7 separate regions of the Homo sapiens genome follow, and all the other regions are linked to region 1. The links come from fine-mapping of genetic effects on gene expression. A gene starts in region 1. Each other region holds a variant in brackets. All regions are shown on one strand. Distances are from middle to middle.

The links. PIP is the estimated chance that this variant, and not a neighbour inherited with it, causes the effect.
Region 2: its variant is fine-mapped to the expression of SWINGN in whole blood (INTERVAL, PIP above 0.99).
Region 3: its variant is fine-mapped to the expression of SWINGN in whole blood (TOPMed, PIP above 0.99).
Region 4: its variant is fine-mapped to the expression of SWINGN in whole blood (TOPMed, PIP above 0.99).
Region 5: its variant is fine-mapped to the expression of SWINGN in whole blood (TOPMed, PIP above 0.99).
Region 6: its variant is fine-mapped to the expression of SWINGN in whole blood (TOPMed, PIP above 0.99).
Region 7: its variant is fine-mapped to the expression of SWINGN in whole blood (TOPMed, PIP above 0.99).

What each region holds. Positions count from the first base shown.
Region 1 is chr13:113,926,733-113,930,807 of GRCh38, reverse strand. SWINGN (SWI/SNF complex interacting GAS6 enhancer non-coding RNA) reads left to right here and starts at 1,817. Exons shown (of 1, transcript NR_047495.1): 1 at 1,817-4,075. It also overlaps a transcript of C13orf46 not described here.
Region 2 is chr13:113,953,781-113,957,855 of GRCh38, reverse strand. It overlaps C13orf46 (chromosome 13 open reading frame 46), which reads left to right. Exons shown (of 7, transcript NM_001365455.2): 7 at 1,017-4,075. The coding sequence ends at 1,083. Among named protein-coding and RNA genes, the nearest start is that of C13orf46, 18 kb to the left of the region's middle. The variant T/CTCT (reference allele first, on the strand shown) is at 1,519.
Region 3 is chr13:113,992,174-113,996,248 of GRCh38, reverse strand. RASA3 (RAS p21 protein activator 3) reads left to right here. Exons shown (of 24, transcript NM_007368.4): 22 at 3,661-3,764. Among named protein-coding and RNA genes, the nearest start is that of C13orf46, 20 kb to the right of the region's middle. The variant A/G (reference allele first, on the strand shown) is at 1,879.
Region 4 is chr13:114,136,495-114,140,569 of GRCh38, reverse strand. No RefSeq gene overlaps it. Among named protein-coding and RNA genes, the nearest start is that of RASA3, 5.9 kb to the right of the region's middle. The variant A/G (reference allele first, on the strand shown) is at 2,428.
Region 5 is chr13:114,108,881-114,112,955 of GRCh38, reverse strand. The region is part of intron 1 of RASA3 (RAS p21 protein activator 3); the gene reads left to right. It overlaps RASA3-IT1 (RASA3 intronic transcript 1), which reads left to right and starts at 3,177. Exons shown (of 2, transcript NR_046544.1): 1 at 3,177-4,075. RefSeq lists enhancers at 1-348, 2,249-2,884 and a silencer at 1,423-1,577. The variant C/T (reference allele first, on the strand shown) is at 2,487.
Region 6 is chr13:113,966,047-113,970,046 of GRCh38, reverse strand. It overlaps C13orf46 (chromosome 13 open reading frame 46), which reads left to right. Exons shown (of 7, transcript NM_001365455.2): 3 at 1,287-1,452; 4 at 1,533-1,580; 5 at 2,659-2,706. Among named protein-coding and RNA genes, the nearest start is that of C13orf46, 6.0 kb to the left of the region's middle. The variant T/C (reference allele first, on the strand shown) is at 1,582.
Region 7 is chr13:113,972,562-113,976,636 of GRCh38, reverse strand. It overlaps C13orf46 (chromosome 13 open reading frame 46), which reads left to right and starts at 2,561. Exons shown (of 7, transcript NM_001365455.2): 1 at 2,561-2,829. The coding sequence starts at 2,640. The variant C/T (reference allele first, on the strand shown) is at 2,123.

The DNA.
Region 1 (4,075 bases):
TGCTAAAGTCCACGGGCATCACCGCATCTAATCCAGGCCCTTTGATGTGGGTGATGTTGATACTCCCACTTTACAGGTGGGGAAACCAAGGCTTCAGCTTCCGTGGCCAGGGGATGAATGGGAGTGTGGTCTGGATGGTGGCTCCTGGACCGGAAGCATGATGGGAGCCATGAGGAATGCAGGTTCTTGGGTCCTTCCAGCTCTGCTGGATTGGATGCTCGTGGGGGCTCAGGGTCAACACAACCCCCCAGGACTCTGACCTGGGAAGTGGAGCAGCCTGATTTGGAGGCGAGGACACACCAGGAGGCACCTTGCCCTGTGGCCACTGCACTGAGGCTTGAGAGATCACTAGAGACAGCTCAGCCTCAGTGCTCCCGCGCCCCCGCCTCGGTGCTCCTGCGCCCCCGCCTCGGTGCTCCTGCGCCCCCGCCTCGGTGCTCCTGCGCCCCCACCTCGGTGCTCCTCCACTCCCACCCCGGTGCTCCTTCCACCTCTGCCTCACCCGATGGACTGTGCCTTTGCGTTTCTTGTGCACAAATCCTGCTGAAGTCTGGGCAGCTGTGTGTTTGATGATGGGCTTGTAGGAGAGAAGCATCTGGACTGCGCCGTGCAGATGGCGCTTCTCTCCAGGCACAGTCACATTCCTGGGAGGTTCCTGGAGGCCTCCGAGCCTCGTGCAGACCCAAGGCTGCCTCACCACCATGGCCACAGCCCAGTGCTGGCTGCCGGGCATCAAATCTGCAGAAATGCACGTGGCATAAAAGCACCAGAGACATCCGTCCAGAGCCGAGGGCTCCTCCCTGGCCCAACATTTTGTCCACGTAAGTCCACTTTTTGGCTGCTGCTCCCAGGCCTGGCAAGAACGCAGATCCCCACAGCCTCCTGCTCCCTGGCAGCCTGAGGACAGTGTCGTAGGCCTGGGATCCTCGGGCAGAACTGAATGCAGCTTTTCCATTGGAGGGCGCTGGGCCCACATGGCAATCACAGGTATGGCAGATGAACTCACGGGATGCTCCGGGACTCCAGGGGCCTCAGGAGAAAGGCCCACTGGCAGCGGGTTGCCCAGGGCTCCAGAGGGGGGCTCCAATGTGAACCAGTTGCTTGTGGCACAGCGGGTCACCCAGGATGGCCCTGCGTGGTCAGTGATAACAGGCAGTCACTCACAGCGCGACTTCACCCATGGTCACTCCCGGTGACCAGCACTGCACAGCCTGGGCTTTCGTCCCACATGGCACCTCCCTGTCCAGCCTTGGCCCAAGTGCCTGGGAAACAGACAGGGCACCGTGTGCCTGAACACACTCGGACAGTCGAGGCCCCCAGGAGAAGCAACAGGCAATGACTCGGTCCCCAAGAAGCTGAGCCTGTCCTTGCTGGGGTCTGTCATCTCCTCTTAGCCCCGCCAGGCTCCTGAAGCTGCCACATGTGCAGCGGGAGGTGGGTGGTTTGGGAGCAGAGCGAGGCTCTGGATGGACGGGCTTTACCACCAGCAGCCACCACCACCTGCTCTGCAGGGCCTGGGCCAGCCCTGAGGAGGTGGCAGACGGAAGGAGGGGCAGCACTGCCTCAGGTCTCCTTTACTGTCTTCCAGACATCAGCTCAGGGAGAGTAGGCATGTAGCACTGAGAAACAGGGTTGCTCCCCATGGCTGCCTCTGCTTCCCTGCCGCACAGTGTCTGTACACGGCCTGGGGACCTGCGAGGCCAGACCGCAGGGCAGGGGCCCACGGCTGTGCCAGCTTCTCTCCCAGGCCGTGGCGGTTATTACCTCCTGACTTGGCAGAGCATCCGGCTACTGGAGCCCATTGGTTCCGGCCAGTGCAGTCAGGACTTAGCTTCCCAGCTGTGATCTAAATCCCAGCCTCCCAAAGGCACAGCGCCTAAGTTCTCCCCTGCCAAGCTCACAGCCTTCTCCTTGGCAGGCTGCCCTTTCTCCTGCTGGACCAAACCAAGGAGCACGGTGACCCAGGGACACCACACTCGGTGTCAGCCTCTGAGGCCATGGAGCCACGCAGACCCAGCACAGGATTAGAAACAGACCTTCCCGGGAGGCAGAGAGCCAGGCCTCCTGGTTTATAGCATGACAAGGCAGCACTCAGGAGGACGCATCAATCCTTCTCCATGTCAGCACCTGTGACTGTGACCACTGGTGAGGTGGACATGCTTCTTTTTCCATTTTACAGATGAGGAAACTGAGGCCAAGGGAGGGTCAGCAGCCTGCCCTGGGCTGACTGGTGATGCAGCGAGGGTGGGGTGTGGGAGGGTGGCGGCGGCCCTTGCAGTCCCTGGGAACCTGCACCTCTTCCTGGGCGCTGTTCCCCTCTCTCTCCCAGGACCCTTGGGCCTGGCGTTTCTTCACCTGCGACCATCCAGGAGCTGGACCTGCCCTAGGGCGTCAGTTTCCAGGGAAGCCTCTGGCCTGTGTGTGAGCCTCCCCACCTGCCCGGCCACGGCCTCCACAGGCGCCCTGCGCAGCCCCGCCCCTCCTGGGGCAAAGGCTTTGCGAAGACTTTCTTCTCTGGCTCATCCCTTTAAGGAGGCATAAAAACGAACCCCGGGCCTCACAGGTCCGGAATGCGCCCCCCTCCACGATGGGAGCTTCTTGGCCTTGGCTGTGCAGGGGCCGCGGCTCCTGGGGGTCTGGCCGGATCTGCAGTAGTGCTGAATGAGCTGTGGCCAGGAAGACGCAATGAATAATTGTCACTTAAAAGGATAAACAGAAATTCCATTTCCCTTTTAAATACTTGAACATTTCAAAACATCTGGAGGACGCGATGCTTTTCCTTCCAAGCATCTCCGTGGAGTTTTGTGGGTTACCGCAGAGGATCGGCAGCATTCCTCTCTCAGGGAAAACTGGCCTGAGCATTGCATAACGCAGGCAGACTGCACCCCTCACGTCGCCTGGGGCCACATGCACATGTTTCCAAGAGACTTGCTGGAGAATCTTCCCCGGATCTTGACAAAGTTGGACATGGAAAGCACGTTGGTCCATCCAAGGTCCACAGAGCGACCCTGGCTATGAAAAATCATCCTCCGAGTGGGAGTCTGTCTGCCAGGAGTGAGGTGACACCGCACATGGCCTCAGGAGCTGGAAACGCTGGTGAATTCAGATGCAGCCAAAGCTTCTAACTTAGTCACAGTTATTAATTATTCTTGGTCTTATTGGAGCAGGAACCACTGCCATGCATCAGGCCAGCAAGGCTCACTCCCCACCGTAGGATCCCTGTGTAGACGGTCGCTCCATCAGTGTAGTTGGGTGTGTGGAGCAAGGGACTGGGCTGACCCTACCTTCCAAGCATCGATGTGGCCTTCAGCAGAGCAGGAGGAGATAGCCCAGGACTTGTACTTTGCAGTTGAAGTGCCAGACCTAAGAAATGCAAACCTGAGGATGGAAAGAGGGTGGAGAGGGGGGAGGTGTCTGGATTGGCCGTCCAGAGCAGCCCCAGCTGCAGCAAGTGGAACTTGGCTGGCTGCCTCACAGGCCTGGTGGCAGCGTCCCCAGCGAGGAGCCTGTCCCACATATGAAGGTCCCCATACCCTTAGCCCCTAGCTGAGAGTTTCACTGACCAGAGCTCCCTGAGTCCAGGGCTCCACTCAAGGGACTGCTGTCCCCGTTGGTGAAGAAGGCCTGTTGGGGCCAATGCTTCCCCCCACAGGGAAGCGGAGCTGTATTTTGTCGGACAGAACTTTGCAAGCCTGAAACAGCTGGTGGTGGCCCCAGAGCCAAGATCTGACCTCACTCCAGAGTTGAAGGGCACAGAGAAGGCACAGCTAGAGGCGGCAGGTACCCCTCAAAGCTCTCGGGAGAGGGTACAAAGTGGGACCTCCCAGCACCCTTGGCCTCCAGGCCTCAAAAGCCCTGAGAGGGCTGCATGCAAGGAGACAAAGCTGGAGAAGGATGTGGGAGGCAGGTGGCTAAGAAGACAGGCTGGAAAGGGACGTGGGAGGTAGGTGGCTTTGCTCTAAACAGAATCGTCTCAGTAATGTGACACTGCACATGTATAGGTAGGCTCGCTCATGGGCATAACCCTCTAAAACACACCTTTTATGGAGTGAAATTCACTTAACAGCCATCTTGA
Region 2 (4,075 bases), 27 kb before region 1:
GATGAAAGGGGGTGAATACAGAGTGCAGGGGAGACCCACCAGTGTGCTTGATGAAAGGGGGTGCAGGCAGAGTGCAGGGGAGAACTCCCAGTGCGCTTGATGAAAGGGGGTACAGGCAGAGTGCAGGGGAGACCCCCAGTGTGCTTGATGAAAGGGGGTACATGTGGAGTGCAGAGGAGACCCCCAGTGTGCTTGATGAAAGGGGGTGCAGGCAGAGTGCAGGGGAGACCCCCAGTGTGCTTGATGAAAGGGGGTGCAGGCAGAGTGCAGGGGAGACCCCCCAGTGCGCTTGATGAAAGGGGGTGCAGGCAGAGTGCAGGGGAGACCCCCAGTGTGCTTGATGAAAGGGGGTGCATGTGGAGTGCAGGGGAGACCCCCAGTGTGCTTGATGAAAGGGGGTGCAGGCAGAGTGCAGGGGAGACCCCCCAGTGCACTTGATGAAAGGGGGTGCAGGCAGAGTGCGGGGGAGACCCCCCAGTGTGCTTGATGAAAGGGGGTGCATGCAGAGGTGCAGGGGAGATCCCCCAGTGTGCTTGATGAAAGGGGGTGCAGAGTGCAGGGGAGACCCCCCAGTGTGCTTGATGAAAGGAGGTGCATGCAGAGTGCAGGGGAGACCCCCAGTGCGCTTGATGAAAGGGGGTGCAGGCAGAGTGCAGGGGAGACCCCCCAGTGCGCTTGATGAAAGGGGTTGCATGCAGAGGTGCGGGGAGACCCCCCAGTGTGCTTGATAAAAGGGGATGCATATGCAGGTGCAGGGGAGACCCCCCCAGTGTGCTTGATGAAATGGGAGCATATGCAGGTACAGGGGAGACCCCCCAGTGCACTTGATGAACGGGGGTGCATATGCAGGTACAGGGGAGACTCCCCAGTGCACTTGATGAAAGGGGGTGCATACACAAGTGCAGGGCAGACCTCCCAGTGCACTTCAGGTTGGGGGTGCTGCTCTCGGGGTGCCTGTGGCCACAGTGCTGGCCCAGGACCCTTTCTCACCCACCTGCCCTCCTCTCGCCCTGCAGGATGCAGACCAGCTGGGTGTGCTGCATCCCGTACTCCACCAGGAAGAGGGCAAAGGAGAGCACCTAGCGCCCCGGAGAGGGTGCTCAGAGCTTGGCGAAGAAGAGGAAGGAGACGGGGTGCAGAGGGGCTGGGGGCACAGGAGGCGGGACGGAGGGCGATCCGGCCACCTACTTGCCGCCCAAGAGCCTTCTCTGCCAGGCACTGAGGTTTCTGTTTTCTTCTTGTGGGACTGGCCAGGCCTGGAAGGAGCGAGAGCACAGACTGCGCCTTTGGGCTAAAGATCCCGCCAGCTCTGAGCAACGCTGGGGTGCCGATGACCACACCAGGTGTGAGCCACGCCTGAAACCCACTGCCCACTGGGTGAGTGATGACGTGACCTTCAACAAACACAATAAACAAGCACGGGAAGATGCTCCTCCTCTCCACCAGATGCTCCTCCTCTCCACCAGATGCTCCTCCTCTCCACCAGATGCTCCTCCTCTCCACCAGATACTACTCCTC[T/CTCT]CCACCAGATACTACTCCTCCTCTCCACCAGATGCTCCTCGTCTCCACCAGATGCTCCTCCTCTCCACCGGATGTTCCTCCTCTCGTCGAGATGCTCCTCGTCTCCTCGAGATGCTCCTCGTCTCCACCGGGTGCTCCTCGTCTCCACCGGATGCTCCTTGTCTCCGCCGGATGCTCCTCCTCTTCGCCAAATACTACTCCTCCTCTCCGCCAGATCCTACTCCTCCTCTCCGCCAGATACTACTCCACCTCTCCGCCAGATCCTACTCCTCCTCTCCGCCAGATCCTACTCCTCTCTGCCAGATCCTACTCCTCCTCTCCGCCAGATCCTACTCCTCCTCTCTGCCAGATCCTACTCCTCGTCTCCGCCAGATGCTCCTCCTCGTCTCCGCCAGATGCTCCTCGTCTCCGCGAGATGCTCCTCCTCTCTGCGAGATGCTCCTCCTCTCCACCGGATGCTCCTCCTCTCCTCGAGATGCTCCTCCTCTCCTCGAGATGCTCCTCGTCTCCACCGGCTGCTCCTCGTCTCCGCCGGCTGCTCCTCGTCTCCGCCGGCTGCTCCTCGTCTCCGCCGGATGCTCCTCCTCTCTGCCAGACACTACTCCTCGTCTCTGCCAGACACTACTCCTCCTCTCCGCCAGACACTACTCCTCGTCTCTGCCAGACACTACTCCTTGTCTCTGCCAGACACTACTCCTCGTCTCCGCCAGACACTACTCCTCGTCTCTGCCAGATGCTCCTCCGCTCCACGAGATGCTCCTCCTCTCCACGAGATGCTCCTCCTCTCCACGAGATGCTCCTCGTCTCCGCCAGATGCTCCTCCGCTCCACGAGATGCTCCTCGTCTCCGCCAGATGCTCCTCCGCTCCTCGAGATGCTCCTCCTCTCCACCGGATGCTCCTCATCTCCGCCGGATGCTCCTCGTCACCGCCGGATGCTCCTCGTCTCCGCCGGATGCTCCTCCTCTCCGCCGGATGCTCCTCCTCTCCACCAGATACTACTCCTCCTCTCCACCAGATACTACTCCTCTCTGCCAGATACTACTCCTCTCCGCCAGATACTACTCCTCCTCTCCGCCAGATGCTCCTCGTCTCCGCCAGATGCTCCTCGTCTCCACGGGATGCTCCTCGTCTCCACGGGATGCTCCTCCTCTCCACCAGATGCTCCTCCTCTCCTCGAGATGCTCCTCATCTCCACCGGATGCTCCTCGTCTCCACCAGCTGCTGCTCCTCTCCACCAGCTGCTCCTCATCCCCACTGGATGCTCCTCATCCCCGCCGGATGCTCCTCCTCTCCGCCAGATCCTACTCCTCCTCTCCGCCAGATCCTACTCCTCCTCTCTGCCAGATCCTCCTCCTCGTCTCCGCCAGATCCTCCTCCTCGTCTCCGCCAGATCCTCCTCCTCGTCTCCGCCAGATGCTCCTCCTCGTCTCCGCCAGATGCTCCTCGTCTCTGCCAGATGCTCCTCCTCCCCACGAGATGCTCCTCATCTCCACCGGATGCTCCTCATCTCCACCGGATGCTCCTCGTCTCCACCAGCTGCTCCTCGTCTCCACCAGCTGGAGGACTCCAGCCCCTTCCTGCCCTGGCCTCTTGCTCAGTGGCTTGTTGGGTGGGGACAGAGGCCCCTGGGGCACAGCAGGGGAGGCTCAGCCCTTTGTGGGCCTCGTGTGAGCTGCAGCTCCTGGAAGCACCCCCACCAGGCAGGAGTGAGAGGTGCAGGGCAGGGATGGAGCATCTGCTGTGTCACCAAAGTCCCTGCAGGAGCCAGGAGCACGGTGGACGCAGCTGAGCCCCGGCTGTGACTGCGAGAGCAACAGAGACTGTGGTGCTGGCACTAGGATCTGTCCCTGGAGGGAAGCCACATGCTCCCCACTCAGAGGAGGAGAGGGAGTCTTCCTAGGGGTGTGGGGGGCTCCAGGACATGCCTGTAAGACGAGTTTCACCAGAATCCACCCAGAGCCCTCTCGTTCAGACACGCACACGTGCATATTCATATGTACACAGCACATACATGCTCGTACATACCACACATGTGCACAGGAGGGCACGGGCAGGTGACCTGCAGCATCTCTGATCCGGGTGTCTCTAAGGCAGTCAGAGGCCACAGGCGGAGATGCTGTGTGCACTGTCTATTCCCGTGGAGACACATGGGGGCCGTCCCTGTGGTGCACATGATAATGCAGAGGCTCCCAGAGGGTGAGCTCTGCCCATCACTCAGCCAGGGAGGGAGGGGCCCTTTTCAGGGAGCCGCATGCCACGCAGAGCTTGTCCCACTGGGTAGTTTCCTCTGATCAAAGTGGGGCACCATCCAGGCTGCAGAGAGAAAGGGGACCCCCCAAAGCCAGCACCCACCCTTGACTGAAAGACACCACAGAAGATAAGTGCCCATCGGCCCCAGAGTCATCATTTCCCAGACAACCGGAAATGGGCCCTGGACGGGCTGTCCTGGACAGGCTGCCGGGCAGTTGGGTGTGACTCAGTTGCGGCCTCCAACTGTGCCAACCAGAAAGGCACCCAGAGAAGCTTCCGGAAATACGGTTGGTTTGTCCCCTTGGT
Region 3 (4,075 bases), 65 kb before region 1:
GGACTCCCCAGGCCGTGGCCATCCTGCTTCTCTAGGAGGAGGCTGGGAGCAAGCCCCTCCCTGAAAGCTTCGTCTGGCCCAGGACACCCACCTTGATTCCACATGACGCAGCAGCCCGTTGTCTTCCCGGCCCCCCATCAGCCGGGTCCCCATCAGCCGGGCCCCCCATCAGCCGGGCCCCCCATCAGCCGGGCCCCCCCATCAGCCGGGCCCCCCCATCAGCCGGGTCCCCCATCAGCCGGGCCTCCCCATCAGCCGGGCCTCCCCATCAGCCGGGTCCCCCATCAGCCGGGCCCCCCATTAGCCGGGCCCCCCCATTAGCCGGGCCCCCCATCAGCCGGGTCCCCCATCAGCCGGGCCTCCCCATCAGCCGGGCCTCCCCATCAGCCGGGCCCCCCGTCAGCCGGGCCCCCCGTCAGCCGGGCCCCCCGTCAGCCGGACCCCCATCAGCCGGACCCCCCGTCAGCCGGGCCCCCCGTCAGCCGGGCCCCCGTCAGCCGGGCCCCCGTCAGCCGGGCCCCCCATCAGCTGGGTCCTCCGTCAGCCAGCCCCCCATCAGCCGGGCCCCCATCAGCTGGGTCCTCCGTCAGCTGGGCCCCCCGTCAGCTGGGCCCCCTGTCAGGCCCCCCATCAGCAGGGCCCCCCATCAGCCGGGCCTCTGGCAGTTGCACAGAGGCTTGGGTCATATCTGCCGGTCCTAAGGAGGAGGCCTGGGTGCCTGGCGGTCCCCCTGGTTATGCTCCGTGAGATGCACCTCGCTGTTGTTGTGGCCACGTGATGCTTTCGCATAAGGGCCCTGCAGGGGATGAGCTGTGCTCCATGCTGGGCCACCGTTTAATCCTCCCACAGCCTCAGAGGTGGGACCTTAGATCCTGCTTCGTGGACACAGAGGCTGAAGCTCAGGAAGGGGGCCTGGCTGCTGCTCAGGCATGCGTGGCCACCGCCCCAGAATCCCCCAGGAGAGGCCAGCGCTCTCCCATGTCCTCGCATCCCAGGACAGCGGGAAGCATTGCAGCCTGACGAGGAGAGAAAACCTGGCCTGTCCCCACCCGCAGCCGACCGTGCAGGGAACACAGTCCCAGGAGGCTTCCTTCCAGGCCATTTATCTCCATGAGAACACGTCTGCCGAGTTTGCTCACTGCCTTGGCAGATCTGTGGGTCCCAAGAGGCTCCAGCCGCTGAGGCCGGACAGCTCGGGAGCCTCCCCTATCCCGCACACCCACAGCCAGCCTCAGTTCTCCCAGCTCGGGGATGCTTTTTTAGTTTTATGTCTTTGAGATGGGATCTCGTTCTGTCACCCGGGCTGGAGTACAGTGGTGCAATCTCAGCTCACTGCAGCCTCGACCTCCTAGGCTCAAGCCATCCTCCCACCTCAGCCTCCCAGGTACCTGGGACTACAGGTGTGCTCCACCATTCCAGGCTAATTGTTTTAAGGTTTTTTGTAGAAACGGGGTTTCACCACGTTGCCCAGACTGGTCTCAAACTTCTGGGCTCAAGCAGTCCTCCCACTTCACTCTCCCAAGTAGCTGGGATTACAGGCTGATGCCACCAGCCCAGCTCATTAAATTTTGGTTTTTTGTAGAGACGGGGTCTCACTATGTTGCCAGGTCTCACTGTGAGGGTCTCTCCATGTTGCCCAGGGTGGTGTTGCTCAAACTCCTGGGCTCAAGCGATCCTTCTTGCCTCGGCCTCCCAGAGTGCTGGGATTACCCACATGAACTCCCTGACTGGCCAGGGATGTGTTTTAATGTTGGTCACTTCATCTTCTTTCTTCTTTTTTTTATGATAAATGCATTTCATTATTTATTTAGATGTTTAAGCTCTCACTGCAAAGTTTTTACAAGCTGTTGAAGACTGACAAATTATTTCTCACACAGA[A/G]CTATAACCACCCATCCCCAGACAGCATAAATATATGGTTGAACATGAATAAGTGACACAATTTTATCAATTACCTAATAAAACAAATGACCAAGTATCCAAATACTGAGCTACTCAGCTCAAAAGGCATATACAGTATTGACATCTGATCAGTTCATTAGCAGAAACCCACTTCTTTTTTTACAAGAGAAGTTGGGAAGAAAAGGGAAAAACTGTCATACTTCAAACAAAAATAAGTTGGAAACAATTTCTAATCAGTATGGAAAAAATTACAGACGTTTCAGAAATTTTATGATTTAAGAATTGTTTTAGCTATAATAAGCATTTCTGCCTTTTAAAAAGTATTTACTAAATTAAAGAGCATATTTCACACGTTCTGCACAAGGCAGCATTTTGCTAAAAATAACAGCCCCGCGCGTTCCTATCAGGCCCTCCCTGTTGGTTGCACCTGCGTGCAAATGTGAAATTAACCGTGAGGCCACTTTGTCTGAAGCCATCAAAGACGTGCTTCTGTACAATGTAGATTTTCTTTTCTTTTCTTTTTTTTTTTTTTTTTTTTTTTTTAGGCAGAGTCTCGCTCTGTTGCCCAGGCTGAAGTGCAGTGGTGTGATTTCGGCTCACTGCAACCTCCACCTTCCAGGTTCAAGCGATTCTCCTGCCTCAGCCTCCCAGGCAGCTGGGATTATAGGTGTGCACCACCACACCTGGCTAATTTTTGTATTTTTAATAGAGACAGGGTCTCACCATGTTGGCCAGGATGGTCTTGAACTCCTGACTTCAGATGATCCACCTGCCTCGGCCTCCCAAAAGTGTGGGGACTACAGGTGTGAGCCACCACACCCGGCTATGGAGGTTTTTCATAATAACACAAAGTAAGATTTATAAAAAGACATGAGGCCGGGCTCAGTGGCTCACGCCTGTAATCCTAGCACTTTGGGAGGTCGAGGTGGGTGGATCACCTGAGCTCAGGAGTTCAAGACCAGCCTGGCCAACATGGTGAAACCCCATCTCTACTAAAAATACAAAAATTAGCCAGGCGTGGTGGTGTGTGCCTATAATCCCAGCTACTCAGGAGGCTGAGGCAAGAGAATCGCTTAAACCCAGAAAGCGTAGGTTTCAGTGAGCTGAGATCGTGCCACCGCGCTCCAGCCTGACGTGTGCTGGTGTGAACATAGGAGAAGCAGACATAGAATGAGCAGGGAAACAAGCACACAGCCTCCTTCTGTGTTTGAAATGACTGAAGGAATAAACCACATGAGGTCTGGAGTGTTCATAGTTCCTGGGAATTGAGTTCTGTATGATACTAAAAATGTACAAGTATTACATATTACACTGGGGATTTTAGCACCTAGTCTTCCTAAATTTCTTATGTATTGATAAGATTCTGGAGTAGGAATAGATTTAAACAAGACATAACTCAGTACTGCGTGATTTCAGGAAAGGTCAGTTAGTACAAATGATAAGCACATTTTAAATACTAAACAGCAAGGATCTTTTGCCACGTGTCCAAATAGGCCAATGGTAACTGAAGCAGAGGTTGCTAGTTAGTTCCGGTTTGCAGCCTGGTGACACTGCTGTCCGTGCTGCTGTGGACGCTGTCAGCCTTGCTCAGCAAGCCAACACACCGGCTGTGCACAGACGGACAGCAAATCGATCCTGTCGAATTTCACTTCCAACACAATCGTTGTCTTTCTTCAGTGACATTTTAAAAATGAATGTCATTATTAAAAGCATCGTTTAAATAAGTGTTTTTATCTTTCTGTTCTTGCTGTGTCTGGACAGCGGCCTCCCAGCCAACATCCAGCTGGACATTGATGGGGACCGTGAGACGGAGCGTATCTACTCCCTCTTCAACTTGTACATGAGCAAGCTGGAGAAGATGCAGGGTGAGTCTGCCCGGCACACAGATCTGTGCAGCGAGGGGATGGCTGGCGAGGCCCCGGCCTCAGGAGCATGCTGTGGGGTGAAAACCTGTGGTCTGAGCCTCTGGTGTAGTGTGGGCTACATGTAGTTGTCTTTGTAGCACGGATGGATGCGAAAAGCTTTTTGCAGGGTAGGCAGCTATCTGGGGGACAATTACCTGTATAATAGGTTCTATAGATAATTTTTAGATGGAATTTAACTTGTAACCTCTGTACTGCCAAGTTTCTTTAGAGGACCTATTTTTTCATTCCTTTGTTTTCCAGAGGGATAAGTG
Region 4 (4,075 bases), 210 kb before region 1:
AGCTTGGTCCCGGCACAGGCCTGCGGGCGGGCACTGCTGCCAGCCCCATTTTACAGACGAAGAAATTGGGAGACAATCTGGGGAGATGAGTTAGCTTCACAGGAAACTATTTGAAGAAATAAAAGTAATTGACGCGGTGGTTCACAACTCCTAAGTATAATGAAAGCAGCCGCGATCGTTGTCACAGTCAAGGTGCCAGGGATTTGTGGGCTGAGGGGCATTCATCAGCACCCACGGCTTCTGCGGGCCTGGGGGCGGGGGCGTGAGCGTCTCCCTCTGCTCTCCTGCCCTGCCCTGCACAACCTGGTGAATTTCCTGTCCCACCCGCTGCCCCACCCCTCCCTGAAGCAGGGAGGTTGGCAACTGAGCTTGTGAGGCTCAAGGGTACCTAGGATGGGCCACTCGGAGGGGAGGCAGCTCTCCTCGGCCATCACAGCCAGAAAGTGGGCTTTGAGTGTTCCGTGCGGTGCTGCCACCGTGTCTACACCCACCTCCACCGTGTCTACACCCACCACCGTGTCTACACCCACCTCCACCGTGTCTACACTCACCGCCACCGTGTCTACACCCACCGCCACCGTGTCTACACCCACCACCGTGTCTACACCCACCTCCACCGTGTCTACACCCACCACCCTGTCTACACCCACCTCCACCATGTCTACACCCACCGCCGTGTCTACACCCACCGCCACTGTGTCTACACCCACCACCGTGTCTACACCCACCTCCACCGTGTCTACACCCACCATCGTGTCTACACCCACCACCGTGTCTACACCCACCGCCACCGTGTCTACACCCACCACCGTGTCTACACCCACCTCCACCGTGTCTACACCCACCTCCACCGTGTCTACACCCACCACCCTGTCTACACCCACCTCCACCATGTCTACACCCACCGCCGTGTCTACACCCACCACCGTGTCTACACCCACCTCTGCCGTGTCTACACTCACCTCCGCCGTGTCTACACCCACCACCATGTCTAAAACCACCTCCACTGTGTCTACACCCACCGCCACCGTGTCTACACCCACCACCACCGTGTCTACACCCACCACCATGTCTACACCCACCTCCACCGTGTCTACACCCACCGCCGTGTCTACACCCACCTCCACCGTGTCTACACCCACCTCCGCCATGTCTACACCCACCACCACCGTGTCTACACCCAACTCCACCTTGTCTACACCCACCACCCTGTCTACATCCACCTCCACCGTGTCTACACCCACCACCACCGTGTCTACACCCACCACCGTGTCTACACCCACCACCACCGTGTCTACACCCACCACCACCGTGTCTACACCCAACTCCACCTTGTCTACACCCACCACCCTGTCTACATCCACCTCCACCGTGTCTACACCCACCACCACCGTGTCTACACCCACCACCGTGTCTACACCCACCGCCACCGTGTCTACACCCACCGCCACCGTGTCTACACCCACCACCGTGTCTACACCCACCTCCACCGTGTCTAAACCCACCTCCATGTCTACACCCACCTCCACCGTGTCTACACCCACCGCCGTGTCTAAACCCACCTCCACCGTGTCTACACCCACCACCACTGTGTCTACACCCACCACCGTGTCTACACCCACCTCCGCCGTGTCTACACCCACCACCGCTGTGTCTACACCCACCACCGTGTCTACACCCACCTCCGCCGTGTCTACACCCACCTCCGCCGTGTCTACACCCACCACCACCGTGTCTACACCCACCACCGCCGTGTCTACACCCACCACCGTGTCTAAACCCACCACCGTGTCTACACCCACCTCCACCGCGTCTACACCCACCGCCACCGTGTCTACACCCACCGCCGTGTCTACACCCACCTCCACCGTGTCTACACCCACCACCACTGTGTCTACACCCACCACCGTGTCTAAACCCACCACCGTGTCTACACCCACCTCCACCGCGTCTACACCCACCGCCACCGTGTCTACACCCACCACCGTGTCTACACCCACCTCCACCGTGTCTACACCCACCACCGTGTCTACACCCACCACCGTGTCTAAACCCACCTCCACCGTGTCTACACCCACCGCCACCGTGTCTACACCCACCACCGTGTCTACACCCACCTCCACCGTGTCTACACCCACCACCGTGTCTACACCCACCACCGTGTCTAAACCCACCTCCACCGTGTCTACACCCACCACCACCGTGTCTACACCCACCACCGTGTCTACACCCACCTCCACCGTGTCTACACCCACCGCCGTGTCTACACCCACCACCGTGTCTACACCCACCTCCACCGTGTCTACACCCACCTCCACCATGTCTACACCCACCACCGTGTCTACACCCACTTCCACCGTGTCTACACCCACCTCCACCGTGTCTACACCCACCGCCACCGTGTCTACACCCACTGCTGTCTGCTTC[A/G]TGACTCGGGGGTCTAGGCTGCTTCTTTCCTCTCTCTCTGCATTTCAAGAAGATGAGAGCGAGACCATGATGCTCCGTGGTAAGGCCCACCTGAGCCTCCGACTGTAGTTGATAAACCCAGCACAGCATTGCGTCTCCTGTCCATCAACAACACAGACCACCAGGCCTCGGCATCCACAGGAATCTTGGAGTGGACCTGTCTGCTTCTCTCAGTTGTGTGGCTCAACTAATGTTTGAGAAAGACTCTTCGGTGGCTATTTATTCATCTCTCTAGATTCTCCAAATGTGTTCTTTCGCAGCTCATCAGGTCACTAGAAAGCTACTTTCTTTGACTTCTAAGTGCCTACATAAATTTTATGCGAGAATTATGATTTAATGTTATATTTTTACTACATTCATTCAACAAACATTCATTGAGCATTTACCATGTTCTAGGCCCTGTAGTGAGTGTCATTTGAGATTAAAAACATCCTCCCCTAACTTGTCCAATATTCCTTTTGAAAAGAATTCCCTAAAAAATTTCTTGTATTGCCTTGTGGGCTAAAGTACTGTCTTTCCTGAAAGTCTGACATGCTTCCTTTTATCAGATAATGTGACTTGTGTAAGATTCATATTTCCATATTTCCCTTTTCACCTTGGCTATCCGGAAGCTCAGTGTGTAGCTTTACGTTCAGCTGTTCTCACCTTACATGTGTCAACAAATCCACTAAAAAAATTTCTTTTAAAAGGAAAGAGACAGGCCGGGCGCGGTGGCTCACGCCTGTAACCCCAGTACTTTGGGAGGCTGAGGCGGGCGGATCACCTGAAGTCAGGAGTTCGAGACCATCCTCAACATGGAGAAACCCTGTCTCTACTAAAAATACAAAATTAGCCAGGCATAGTGGTGCATGCCTGTAATCCCAGCTACTCGGGAGGCTGAGGCAGGAGAATTGCTTGAACCTGGGATGCGGAGGTTGTGGTGAGCGCCGAGATTGCGCCATTGCACTCCAGCCTGGGCAACAAGAGCGAAACTCCATCTCAAAAAAAAAAAAAAAAAGGGGAAAGAGACATTATTCCAGCAAGCAGTTTGCAAACTGGGAGATGCTGCCTTTGGAACAAAACAAAGGTGCATTCCAGAGAAGAAACATGCGATTGTCTTCCACAAGGGAATTCCTGCCCAGGATCTCATTCTGGCCTTTATGCAGATAAGGGAGGCAGACTTGCTTCATTCTGTTTGGTAGAGCCTGGTAGCAGTCTATTGGTTTGGTCCAGAGGGCAAATTGGGATTTTCTGGCCTTGGTTGATTCCAGCAGCATGAACAGACAGCTGTGAAATTTCCAGCACTTCCGGGAACGCAGAGCTGGCGTGTGACCTCTAGTGAGCAAAAGGTCGCGTGCCTCCATTTTGAATTCAGGCCCAGTGAGCCCCTTGGGATGCACCTGGCAGGATGGGCTCTTTCAGGTTCAGATACCTGATTCCACCGTTCTTCCTTCAGTTCTTACTTTGAACCCTCCAAAAATTATTCCGTTGTGTACTGGTCATTTATGTGGCTTCAAATCCTTTGAAAGTAGATTGTTCAGACATGATCTAATAATGCTGTTTTGGAAATGAATGAATGTCCACTTGTCAATGGGTTGATATGTGAACAGAAGAGTATATCCAAAGAGAG
Region 5 (4,075 bases), 180 kb before region 1:
TAGTGCCTCCTAGTCCCACCCTCCAGCCCTCCCTGAGCTAAGCACCTTCCCAGCCCCCTGCTGGCCTCTCATTCACTCTCTGAACGGCGAGTGTTGCTTTTTTGCTGAGGATTCTCTTGGAAACCCTTTGAGCTGAGAGATGAGCCCACAGCGGTGCCTCTGCCTCAGATGTTGGTGTACCCTGCGGCCCCACGGGGAGTGGACGCTGGCAGTCGGGGCACCTTGGCTGTGGGAAAGGAGGACCACGCTGGCCACACAGGCCTGAGTGTGTGGGACCAGGGCAAGCAGGGAGAGCTGGCATACCCCCACCCCATTCTCCAGTTACCAACCCTTAACCCGGGGCTCTCCTAGCGGGGTCCCCATACCTGCAGCACCAGCATCCCCGGGCACGCGTGTGAAGTGCTCGAGGCAGGCCGCACCCCTACAGAGCTGGGGCTGGCGATCTCTTTCCACCGGCCCTGCAGAGAGTTCCCGTCCGGCTGAAATCTGAGACCCCGGTCTAAAGAGTGTGATTCTCTTCCTGCAGAGTATCAGGAGCAGACCAGCTTCCCAAACAGTCACCCGCAGAGCTTCTGCTCCTTCGGGGAGGGCCCTGACTTTCTCGTGGTAGAAATCCTCCACCCGGCCAGGTTCCGGCTGCCCCAGGCCCCCTAGAAGACTCCGGGGATTGCTGAGCAGATGCGGGGCTGCCTGGAGCTGGCCTGGCCCCTGGTGCCCTGCTAATGCCATTTTTTGGTAACACCCATTCACAATAGCCTGGCTGAGGGTTTTGTTCTCCTTCTCTTTATTTGCTATCACTAAATCCATCTGATTAAAAATTAGCCTGGTGTGCCCTTGTCCCAGTTGCTGGGGGGGGTGCCTGGGGGCTGCTGTTTCCAGGGAGAGGGAGGGACAGTGTCACTTACGGGACCACACAAAGGGGCGAATCTGCCTTTTGCTTTTGTCTCTTCCGCTACAGCTCCCACCCTCGCCTGTTCCTTGGAATTAGATAGGGTGAAGTCTGTGCCTCCTTCACCAGCATAAACAGAAGCTATTTTAAGTTGATGGGCCCCAACCCCAACCAAGACACAGGATCCGATGATCCTCTGGAAGCGCCGTCTTTGCTCAAATTGCAGCTGGGGATGTCCTAACTCCTGACCACAGATGGAGGTTTGACATACTCTGCTTTACGCATGAGGTTTTCTAAACAGTTTATGTAGCTAGAGGCTGTTTTGGAGAAACAGAGATGGTCATGGACATAGTTGCAAATACCAAGGCTATCAGTGGACATGGAGACGCTGGGCTCTGTGTGAGGCAGGAAGTGACGTTTCCCTCCTTAGAGGCTCAGCCCGTTAGAACTCGGCCTGCAGCTCGTTTGAGGCTCAGCCCGTTAGAACTCGGCCTGCAGCTCGTTTGAGGCTCAGCCCGTTAGAACTCGGCCTGCAGCTCGTTTGAGGCTCAGCCCGTTAGAACTCGGCCTGCAGCTCGTTTGAGGCTCAGCCCGTTAGAACTCGGTCTGCAGCTGGTTTGAGGCTCAGCTCCTTAGAACTCCGCCTGCAGCTCGTTTGTGGCTCAGCCCGTTAGAACTCGGCCTGCAGCTGGTTTGAGGCTCAGCCCGTTAGAACTCGGCCTGCAGCTCGTTTGTGGCTCAGCCCGTTAGAACTCGGTCTGCAGCTGGTTTGAGGCTCAGCTCCTTAGAACTCCGCCTGCAGCTCGTTTGTGGCTCAGCCCGTTAGAACTCGGCCTGCAGCTGGTTTGAGGCTCAGCCCGTTAGAACTCGGCCTGCAGCTCGTTTGTGGCTCAGCCCGTTAGAACTCGGCCTGCAGCTGGTTTGAGGCTCAGCCCGTTAGAACTCGGCCTGCAGCTCTTTGTGGCTCAGCCCGTTAGAACTCGGCCTGCAGCTGGTTTGAGGCTCAGCCCGTTAGAACTCGGCCTGCAGCTCGTTTGTGCCGTTCCATGTTGCAGTTTTAGGTTTTTTTTTTTTTTACTTTGAGCAGCCCTGGATTATGACAGGTGTCTGGCGATGTCTTTCCTGACCAGAGCGTGGCTCAGCCCCCGACCGGGGCCCACGGCCAGACCCTCACTCTGCTGCCCCCGACCTGGGACACCGTGGCTCTCTCAGGAGGATTCTCACTCCCCAGCCAAGCACAGTCTGTGGTGTCAAACCTGCCGGTGTCCGGATGGGTGTGTCCTGGTGCTCTGAGGCTCCGGTCCGGGCTGTGGGGACGCGGGAGGCTGAGCGGGTGAAGGCGGCTGTGATGTGCGTGTCATGCCCTGTGCAGGTGCCAGGAGGGGCTGTCGGTCCTCACAGCAGCCAGGGGAGGAAGCTTGTTGTGTTTGTTGCTGATGAGGAAACGGGGCTCTGGGAGGGAAGTGCTTTGCCGGCTCACGCTGGGCCACAGCTGCCTGCTGCTTTCCTGAGAAGCCGTGTAAGGAAGGTGGCGGCCGAGTGCGCAGAACCTGTCCTGTGTAGGGCCAGGGGTCATGCAGCTGTGCAGGGAAGCAGC[C/T]GCAGGCACGGTGCCGTCCAGTGAGCCGGACTGTATCCATTTCACCTTATTTCAGACACTGAGATTTGAGTTGCACGTAATGTTCACAGGCATGAAATGTTATCCTTTTGATAATTTTTAAATTACTTAAAATCTACCTTGCAGGCGTTACAGCACAGGGTATGGTCAGGGGCCCGGGTCTGTCTCTCCCTGGTCCTGGCAGCCATGTAAGCCCGTAGACCCAGAGCAGGGGTCCAGCTTCCAGGCCCCCCTGGGGACTGCTGAATTCTGTCCCACTGACTTAGATTTTTTGTTTTATTCTGAGCATTTCTGTGTCTGTTGATTCACTATTTTTTTCTGGTTATAGAAGGAATAATTTTTCTTTTACCAACCACCCAGGCTGCAGCCACCTGTGACTGGTCAGGTTTCTGTGATGGGGAGAGGGCCTGGCCCTGAGGTCTGTGTTTCACGGCTCTCACTGGGCTCCGCCAGACGCTCGTTGCCCTGAGGGTGCAGCTGTGGCAGCATCTGTGGGTGGCTGAGGAGACGGGACGTTCACCGGGAAGTTGCGCCCCAAGGGTGTTCTGGGGGCTGCCTCGATTCCCAGAGCTAGACCCACACGATGCTGAGTCTCGTGCCGCCGCGAGGCCACCCCCGGTCAAAGAGACCCAGTCGCCTGCCTCGTGGCCCTGCGCCAGCCCCGCCTCTGGTGACGTCTCTTTGGAAGCCACAGCAGGAGGAGGCTGCTCACGGCGTTTGGAGGCTCGAGGGCCTGGTCTCCAGGTGTGCACAGCCGGGATGGAGCAGAAGGAGGATGAGCTTAAGTCAGAGAGTCCTGGGCTCCAGTTTTGCTTTGACGTTTATGTTGCTTTAAGAGAAAACAGCTCAGCTGTGCTTTTCTCCTCTCCGCGGCCCTCATGGCTGATCTGTATGGAAGATTAGAGAGGACCCTGTGTCAACGTCCGCAGCCCACCGTAGGTGCTGAGTAAATGTTGGTCGGTGTTTTTCTCACTTTATTTTCAAGCTGTCATTGGCTTGGGATTTTGTAAAAGGCAGCTGGGGTGTGGATTGGAGTGGAGCTCTAAGATGCTTGAGGCAAGAGGAGGCTGTGAACAGGAGGGTTTGGACTGGGAACCACGCAGCACAAACGAGCTGAGTTCGAGGAAGGCCTCAGTGCCTTGAAAGGCAGCTGCTGTTTACACTTTTCTCAAGACAGAGGCTTCACGTGGTCGCCGTTCACACAAGTGCCAAGCAAGACCCTGGCACCAGAGGCGTGGACTGAAAATGAAGCCACCTGAACGTCCTGTGACGGTCACGGAGCCGGTCGTGTTCGGGGGCCCGTGTGTGTTTGTCAGGCCAGGACCCTGCCGCCTGCCCTCTGGCTTAAGGAATCCAGTTGGGGAGAAACACTCCCTCTGAGTACCCCTGGGGTTTTGACCCAGCTTGAGGTTGTAAACAGGTGGAGGGGGCCGAGTGGAGAGGCCTTGCTGTGATAGAGACCTGGGCCTGCCCTGCCACCGTCCGCCGGGAGCCCACGGCAGCCTCGCCCTCCGACACCTGCACGCTGCATGCAGTGGACTGAACTGCAGGATGCCTGTGTTGCTGCCAGT
Region 6 (4,000 bases), 39 kb before region 1:
AGGGAGCCCTGGGTCCTGCGAAGACCCCGCGCAGGGCCTGGATGGGAGGGCTGGGAAATCCTCCTTATTTTGAGAGGAATTCAGCGTGGGAACAGGACCCACCTGTAGCGGGGTGGTGTCCTCAGGACTCGGGCCCTGGCCTGAGGGTCACACAGCTGCATCCCTCTCAGTAGACACCCCATGGCCCTCTGGGGAAGGAGGCGTCGTCTCACTAGTGGACTGCTGGGCCCACCTTAGATGTAAACAACTCGAGTGCTCCTTTAGGGAGAGGGCGTGGGGCCCTGGACAGCACATCCCCACTTCGTACTGCCGAGTTCTTGCCTCCCTGCACCTCGCGTCCCGTTCTAACCCAGCTCTGGTTCTCCCACCCACTCACCCTCCTGCCATCAAAGAAGACTTAAAAGTCATTGAATTCCTCAAAAATTTGTCTCAGATCTAACAAAGTCGATTTACCAGCACCATGGCAAGGCACGGGCCAAGTCCCCCTTATTTACAAATGGCTCCCGTTGAGTGGAGACCAAGGAAGGTGTCCGGCCGCCGAAGCGGCCAAAGGTGCAATCAGTTGGTGAGAGTGAGTGTTCGTGTGTTAGACAGGATGTGTGCGGCGCCTGGAGCCTCCCACTCCGTAGAGCTCAGGGAAGCTGATGGCCTTGGTGAGGGCAGTTGAGCTGGGAAGACCACACACCTTTAGGGTGGCAAAGCTGAAAGCGTCTGCTCACGTTGGCCAAGTCAGTCAATACCCTCGGCCAAGTCAACGCCATTGCAGATGGTGGCGGAGCCCCTGTCATCCTCACTGCCTGTTGCATTCCTCTTGCCCCTGGCCACACACCATAGCAGACCACAGAAGGGGTCACGAGGTTGGTGCGAGTAACAGCAGGGCCAACCGTGGACCCTCCAGCCTACTGGCCAGCATGGCCCATTTGGTATCCACATGGAGTGTGGATCTGCGACAGGGTGGCTGCATCTTCTCATCAGATTTTGGTTCTTTGAGCAAGGTTAGACCCTGCTTTCCAAAATAAGCCCAGGTTGGCTGTAATCCCAGTCCAGACCCTGGCTGTACAGGGTAAGTTTTCCAGGCAAGATGGGCCAGCAGAGGGAGCCAGGAGGGCCAGGCTGTGGGGCCCTTCAGAGCCAGAACTCTGTGCTGGGTCAGGGCACCTCATAGGTGCCCACCAGACCCCAGGGGCACCAGCCTCAAGCCCAAGGAGACAGACCCAGAGGAGACCAGGAGCTGCCCGCAGCTATCTGCCGTCTCTTCCAAACCACTTTCCCTGCTCCTCCCGCAGTCAGAAAAACCTAGCACAAGACAAGAAGGAAAGCTTCAGCACCCTTGGGAAGCTGGGTCATGAGAGTGGAAAACAAGACCCAGAGAGGGAGAAGAGCGACTTGGAGGCCAGCATGCAGGAGGTGCAGGAAGGCGAGCACGCAGACGGAGGCTTGCAGGAGGCCAAGGTTGGGCCACGCTGAGGAGCGGTGCATTTTTTCCTCTTGCCTTGGAGCCCGGCCTTCACTTAACCTCTTTGGTCTTACAGGAACAGGAGGCAGAGTCCATAAAGCTAAATGACCTTCAGGAAGAAGAGG[T/C]AAGAGCTTTTCCCTTTAGTAATAGAAGTGAGAAGGGAGGCCTGTCCAGGCGGGAGTTCTGCCGGAGCCTGGACCTGCCCGGGACGGTGGCCTGGGGGTCAGCTCAGCAGGCGCCAGGCTGTGAAGCTGGACTGACTGGGCCCCTGCTACCCTAGAGAGGCTTGGGGCCAAGCTCTGAGACTCTTTACCCGATCCCAGGGCAGCCTGACCCCTGCTTGCCAAACGTGCAGTCACTAAAGGTGTATGAGGCCCTGAGAGGAGGTGCCCTCAGCTTGACCTTGGCCCAGAAAACACCCAGAGCCCCAGGCTTGATGTGTTGTCCAGGGACACGTCATGCTGTGGGGGTTCTCACGTGGCACCGTGTGAAGGAAAGTGGCTTTTGTTCTCCCTCCAAGCTGTGTGGTGGGGACGGTAACACAACCAGACACGCTGCTTGCCAGGCGGGCCTTGCTTTCATTCCAGGGCTCTTGGGAAGTCCTTCACCCACCCCCAGACACTGCCCTTGGAGTTGACTCAAATGCTCCCATCAGACACACGTTCTGGGCTGGCCCAGGTGCCCCGTTGGAGGCCTTGGGACAGCAAAACCCTGAGCCGCTGAAGCCGTTCACATCCCGGGGGGGGTCTCCTGCTCCTTGGTGTGGAGTGTGGCCCACAGGCAGGCTGTGGGGCAGGAGTGCTGCCTTGTCGAGCAGGGCTGGGGTGGGAGCAGCCCGGCTCCCCAAGATCTGGGCATTGCCCCATCTCCTGGAGGCCCGAGTTCTCAGAGGATGAGGTTGGAGGAGACCCTCTGGGGTCTCAGGGCCCTGATGGGAGGTGAGTAGGGAGGGGTGAGAAAGCCATATCCCTCCTACATCCTTCTCCTACATGGGCACCTCACAGTCCATACTGCCGTCAGCTCTGCCCAGCGTCCCAGGAGCCCTCGTTCAGCATTGCCAGGATCTGGGGACCTGATGGTCATCACCAGGGTCTGCCCCGGCTGCCCCAAGGGCCAGGGGCCACTGTTCCTCCCAGGGAATCAACGTTCCTCTCCAGCTCACCCAAGCCTGCCATCCACACCTCTGTGGTTTCCATTCGCAGAAAGCATCTGTGTTTGTGGAGATTGATCTGGGAGACCATGCTGAGGAGGTAAAAATGGAAAACCGCAAGACAAGCAGAGCCAAAGCCACCAGGAAAGCGCCTGTGCTGCCTGGCAGGGCCAGCCTGGGAGGCTTTTCTGGGAACTTACCCCACAATAGCCATGTGTTGGATAGGGAGGCAGAGACCTGGGGCCAGCAGCTCCAGGAGAGCTCCCTGGTGTTGAGGATTGGTCTAGCCTCTTCCTTACCCTCCCACACTCCAACTCACGCACACTTCAGCACTATCAGAGACTCTGGGGCCTGGGTTAACCTTCAAGGTGCCCATGGGTCCTCAGAACCTCTTGTGGGGGATCACGTTGGGATGGTGAAAAGGGCACAGGCCTGGAAGCTCAGAGACTGGGCTTTGGTGGATGTGTGGTTCTGTCAGTAAATGCTCAAAACAACTCATCATACTTCCCTGTGCCTCAGTTGTCTCCTCTATAAAGTAGGAATCATATTAGTACCCGCATTCCAGGGTTGTCTGGGAAAGCTCTCAGAGCAGTGCCTCACACCCAGGAAAGCTTATCATCATCATCATGGGGTATCATCATCATCATCACCACCATTACTATCCTCAGCATCAACACCATCATTATATCACAACCATCATCATCATCACCACCAGCAACATCATCCCCATAAACATTATCACCATCATCATTAATATCACCATCATTATCACATCACCACCATCATTCCCATCAGCAGCATCATCATCATCATCACTATCATGACCATCATCACTGTCACCATCATCATCACCATCACCACTATCACTATCACCATCATCGTCACTATTACCATCACCATTATTACCATCATCACCTTCACCATCATCACCACCATTATAATCACCATCACCATCATCATCACCATTATAATCATCACCACCGTCATCATCACCATTAATACCATCACCATCATTATCACATCATCATCATCATCACCATCATTAATACCATCACCATCATCATCATCACCATCATTAATATCATCACCGTCATTATCACATCACCACCATCATTCCCATCACCAGCATCATCATCACCATCACTATCATGACCATCATCACCACCATCACTGTCACCATCATCATCACCATCACCACTATCGCTATCCCCATCATCACCACCATTATAATCACCATCATCATGACCATCATCACCATCATCATCATCACCATCACCACTATCACCGTCACCATTGTCATCATCACCATTATAATCACCATCATCACCATCATCATCATCACCATCATTAATACCATCATCACATCACCACCATCATTCCCATCACCAGCATCA
Region 7 (4,075 bases), 46 kb before region 1:
GATATGGTTTGGCTGTGTCCCCACCCAAACCTCATCTTCAGTTGCAGCTCCCATAATTCCCATGTGTGGTGGGTGGGACCCAGTGGGAGGTGATTGAATCTGTGTGGTGGGAGGTGATTGAATCTATGTGGTGGGAGGTGATTGAATCTGTGTTGTGGGCGGGACCCGGTGGGAGGTGATTGAATCTGTGTGGTGGGCGGGACCCGGTGGGAGGTGATTGAATCTGTGTGGTGGGAGGTGATTGAATCTGTGTGGTGGGAGGTGATTGAATCTGTGTGGTGGGAGGTGATTGAATCTGTGTTGTGGGCGGGACCCGGTGGGAGGTGATTGAATCTGTGTGGTGGGCGGGACCCGGTGGGAGGTGATTGAATCTGTGTGGTGGGCGGGACCCGGTGGGAGGTGATTGAATCTGTGTGGTGGGCGGGACCCAGTGGGAGGTGATTGAATCTGTGTGGTGGGCGGGACCCGGTGGGAGGTGATTGAATCTGTGTGGTGGGTGGGACTTGGTGGGAGGTGATTGAATCATGGGGCGGTTCCCCCATACTGTTCTCGTGGTATAAGTCCCACGAGATCCGATGTGAAAGTTTTATGAGGGTTTCTCCTTTTGCTTGGTCTCATTCTCTCCTGCTGCTGCCATGTAAGACGTGCCTTTCACCTTCCACCATGATCGCAGGGCCTCCCCAGCCATGTGGAACTGAATCCATTCAACCTCTTCTTTATAAATTACCCAGTCTCAGGTATGTCTTTATCAGCAGCATGGAAACTGTCTAATACACCCACCAAGAGACTGCAGGTGGCTTTGTGGAGACCCCAGTGACGCCCATTTGCCCTTGTTGCTCCAGACGACCCAGCACTTGTTGGAGAGAGACAGCGGCCTCCTCTCCCATCCTGGCAGCATCCGCGGGGCTCCCGACATCAGAGTGTCCAAAGCAGGTGCCTCTGAGGAACCGTCCCAGGAGGCCAGGCAGTGCCAGAGCGTGTGTGAGGCCAAGGCCCCCACCCTGCACCCACCACTTGCCCAGAGAGCTGAGGCCTCCTGGGTGCTGAGAGGCTGTGGGCTCTTCAAAAGAAGAGATCAGAAGGAGGGGAGCCTGCAGCCTGGGGGTCACACCTGCTTCCCCCTGGCTGAGGAGCCCCGGGTGCGGGAAGCGGGTCCTGGGGGCGGGGGGGTGCGCCGGCTCGCGAGGTGCCTGTCAAGGGGCAGAAGGGGCTGCCCAAATAAGCCACACTGTTGTAAGGGTTGTTTTGAGCTGAAACAGCCATCCACAAGGATAAGAACGCTGCTTTCTTCTGGCTCTGGAGAGCGTCTTCCCCGTGGGGTGTTACCTCCTCTTTCAGGAAGGAAAGGCCATTCCCGGCCACACAGACCGTGCTGGAGTGCGTGTGCCTTTCTCCAGCTCATCTGCTGATTTTAATTATCAGGCCCGACCAAAAAACCCCAAGAGGTAAAATGTTGCCTCCCCACCCACCGTGGTCTGGAGGCTGGAGGAGACAGCGTGCCGGGGATTTTCTGTTCGGCTCAGTACAGGCTGAACTCTGTCCCGGCAAATCCTCATGCTGGAGCTGTGACCCTGTGACCCTCAGGACCTCAGGGTGTGGCTGCACTTGGGCGTGGAGCTGTAGAGATTGTCAAGGTAAAGCGAGGCCCTGACCCAGTGTGACCAGCGTCCTCATGAGAAGGGGAGACGAGGACGCAGCACACAGGACCACCACGTGAGGACACGGAATACGTCATCTTCGCGCCAAGGAGAGAGGCCTCGGGTAACCAGCGCTGCGAGACACCTTGCCCCCAGCACCGGAGGGAATGAGCTCCCGCTGTTTAAGCCGCCTGCCTGGGAGTGCCAGCAAACCCACGCTGACCTGTGCAGTTCACACCGTCGGCCCGGAAAGCCCTCGCCGGAGCCCCGGCCACATCAGGGTTTCGTCCTGGCGCCGTGTGGGTGGGGAGAGGCGCTGGGCCGGCAGCATTTGCACCCCACCACTGCCTGCAGGGGCTGCCTTTGTCTTCCTGAGTTGATCTGTGTCCCATTTGCCCTGATAGGGAGAGAAAGATTCAAATACCCTGTCACAGAGGGAGACCGGCGTCTCATCTGCAGGCCCTGCTAGGGCTGGTGCCAGTTCC[C/T]CGCCCTCCCTGGTGGAGAGACCAGAGATGTGAAAACGCAGAACCCGCCCCAGCCCCGGCCTGCGGGAAAGAAGAAGGGAAGACGCAGAACCCGCCCCAGCCCCGGCCTGCGGGAAAGAAGAAGGGAAGACGCAGAACCCGCCCCAACCCCGGCCTGCGGGAAAGAAGAAGGGAAGACGCAGAACCCGCCCCAGCCCCGGCCTGCGGGAAAGAAGAAGGGAAGACGCAGAACCCGCCCCAACCCCGGCCTGCGGGAAAGAAGAAGGGAAGACGCAGAACCCGCCCCAGCCCCGGCCTGCGGGAAAGAAGAAGGGAAGACGCAGAACCCGCCCCAGCCCCGGCCTGCAGGAAAGCCACGCTGTGCTGCCAGGGATCGGCTGATCTTTGGCCTCTGACCTTACAGTGATGTCACAGCAGACCCATGGCAACGCACTCCCAGCACCTCCTGACTACTCCCTGCGGGACGGCTGGGTGTGAGGGTGGCAGCCTTGTGCTCAAGCCGAGGCTGGGCTGGAGGATGGAGAAGGACACGGGGACCACACACAGGAGGCACCGGCCCGGCCTCAGGGCCCTGCCCTCAGGAGTGGCCCTTGGGCACCTCAAGGCGGCCAGTGAGGCCTCTGAACTTCAGCGAAGCAGGAGTCTGGGAGGCCTGCAGCCCGAGGGGGACCCTCCCAGCCGCCCTAGGAAGCCTCACAAGGAGCTGGGTAGGGGCTGTGGGGCCGCGGGGAGCGGGTGGACGGCGCGGCTGTCCCACCAGGCACTGAACCCAAAGTACCTGCGTCAGAGCCCAGCCCAGTTAGAAAGTTCTAGGAAGTTCCCAAGGTTAGGGATGCGCCGAGACAGCCCCAGGAGGTCCAACGACGTGTGTCCAAGGCGGGGCACGGCCTGACGTCATACATTGCAGGGGGGCGTGGGGCATCAATCAGCACCTGTGAGGGGGTACGTCGGTTCTGTCCGGAAAGGGACAGCCTGAAGCAGGAGGGGCTTCCAGGTCGTAGGTAGAGGAGACACAGGGCTGCATTCTTTGGGTCTCGATCAGCCTTTCACTGAACACACAATTTACACGTGAGGGGACTAGAGGGAGAGTCACTTGTATCCTCGTCCGGCTCCGTGACTGCGGTTTTTCATGAGCAGCCCAGAGGGAGCTGTCGGACACACTTGTCTCAGGTGAGCAGAGGGAGGACCGTGATCTCTGTCCCTGTCCTGCGCCTGTTGACGGTCAGCTGTCCACGTGCATTCCCAGCGTGAAACTCCACAAAACTGCTTAGGGCAGAGATCTTAAGGCTCACAAGGAATTTCCTCGTGGGTGAATGATGAGGGAGGCCTGTGGCCGTTTATCTCTGCAGCTCTTGTTTAGGAAGAGGATGGGAGGCAGGTTTGTCTGACACATTCCCAGCCTTACTCCTCCCCTTAGCTCAGTGATTCAGGGCCCAAGATTCATTTTCCTTCCACCGGCAGCAGGGACCGGGCCGGGCCTCCTGCCTCCCGCTGCCCTGTGCTCGGAACGCTAAGGGTGGAAGTGGGGAGCACTCCAGGTCCACACCCGTAACCCACCCAGGGCTGCTGGGAAGGCCTTGCGCTGCTGGGGCGGAGCTGTGGGGGCTCCAGCCGGGCACAGCCAAGGGCGGGAGGGGTGAGAGGAGGGCAGGCCTGGGACCCTCATGGGCCTCCGAAGCCAGCCGATGCCTGAAGGGAGGATCATAGCCAGGCGCCCCGTTTGCAAGAAGGCCCTGGTGAGGGCCTGGGTCCCTGCCAGGAGCTCTGGGCCTCACCCACCAGCAAGGAACCTGCGTAGCTGGTGTTTGACACGGTTGGCTTCTAAACCGCGAAACGTGTAGGCTGCCCCTGTGTCGGTCCACACTCGCCACTCTGAGATGTTTCCAGGTGTGCCGAACGGACGGTGGTGTGGGCCTGGGGATGGTGCTGCAGTCACCTCCTCACACCTTGAAT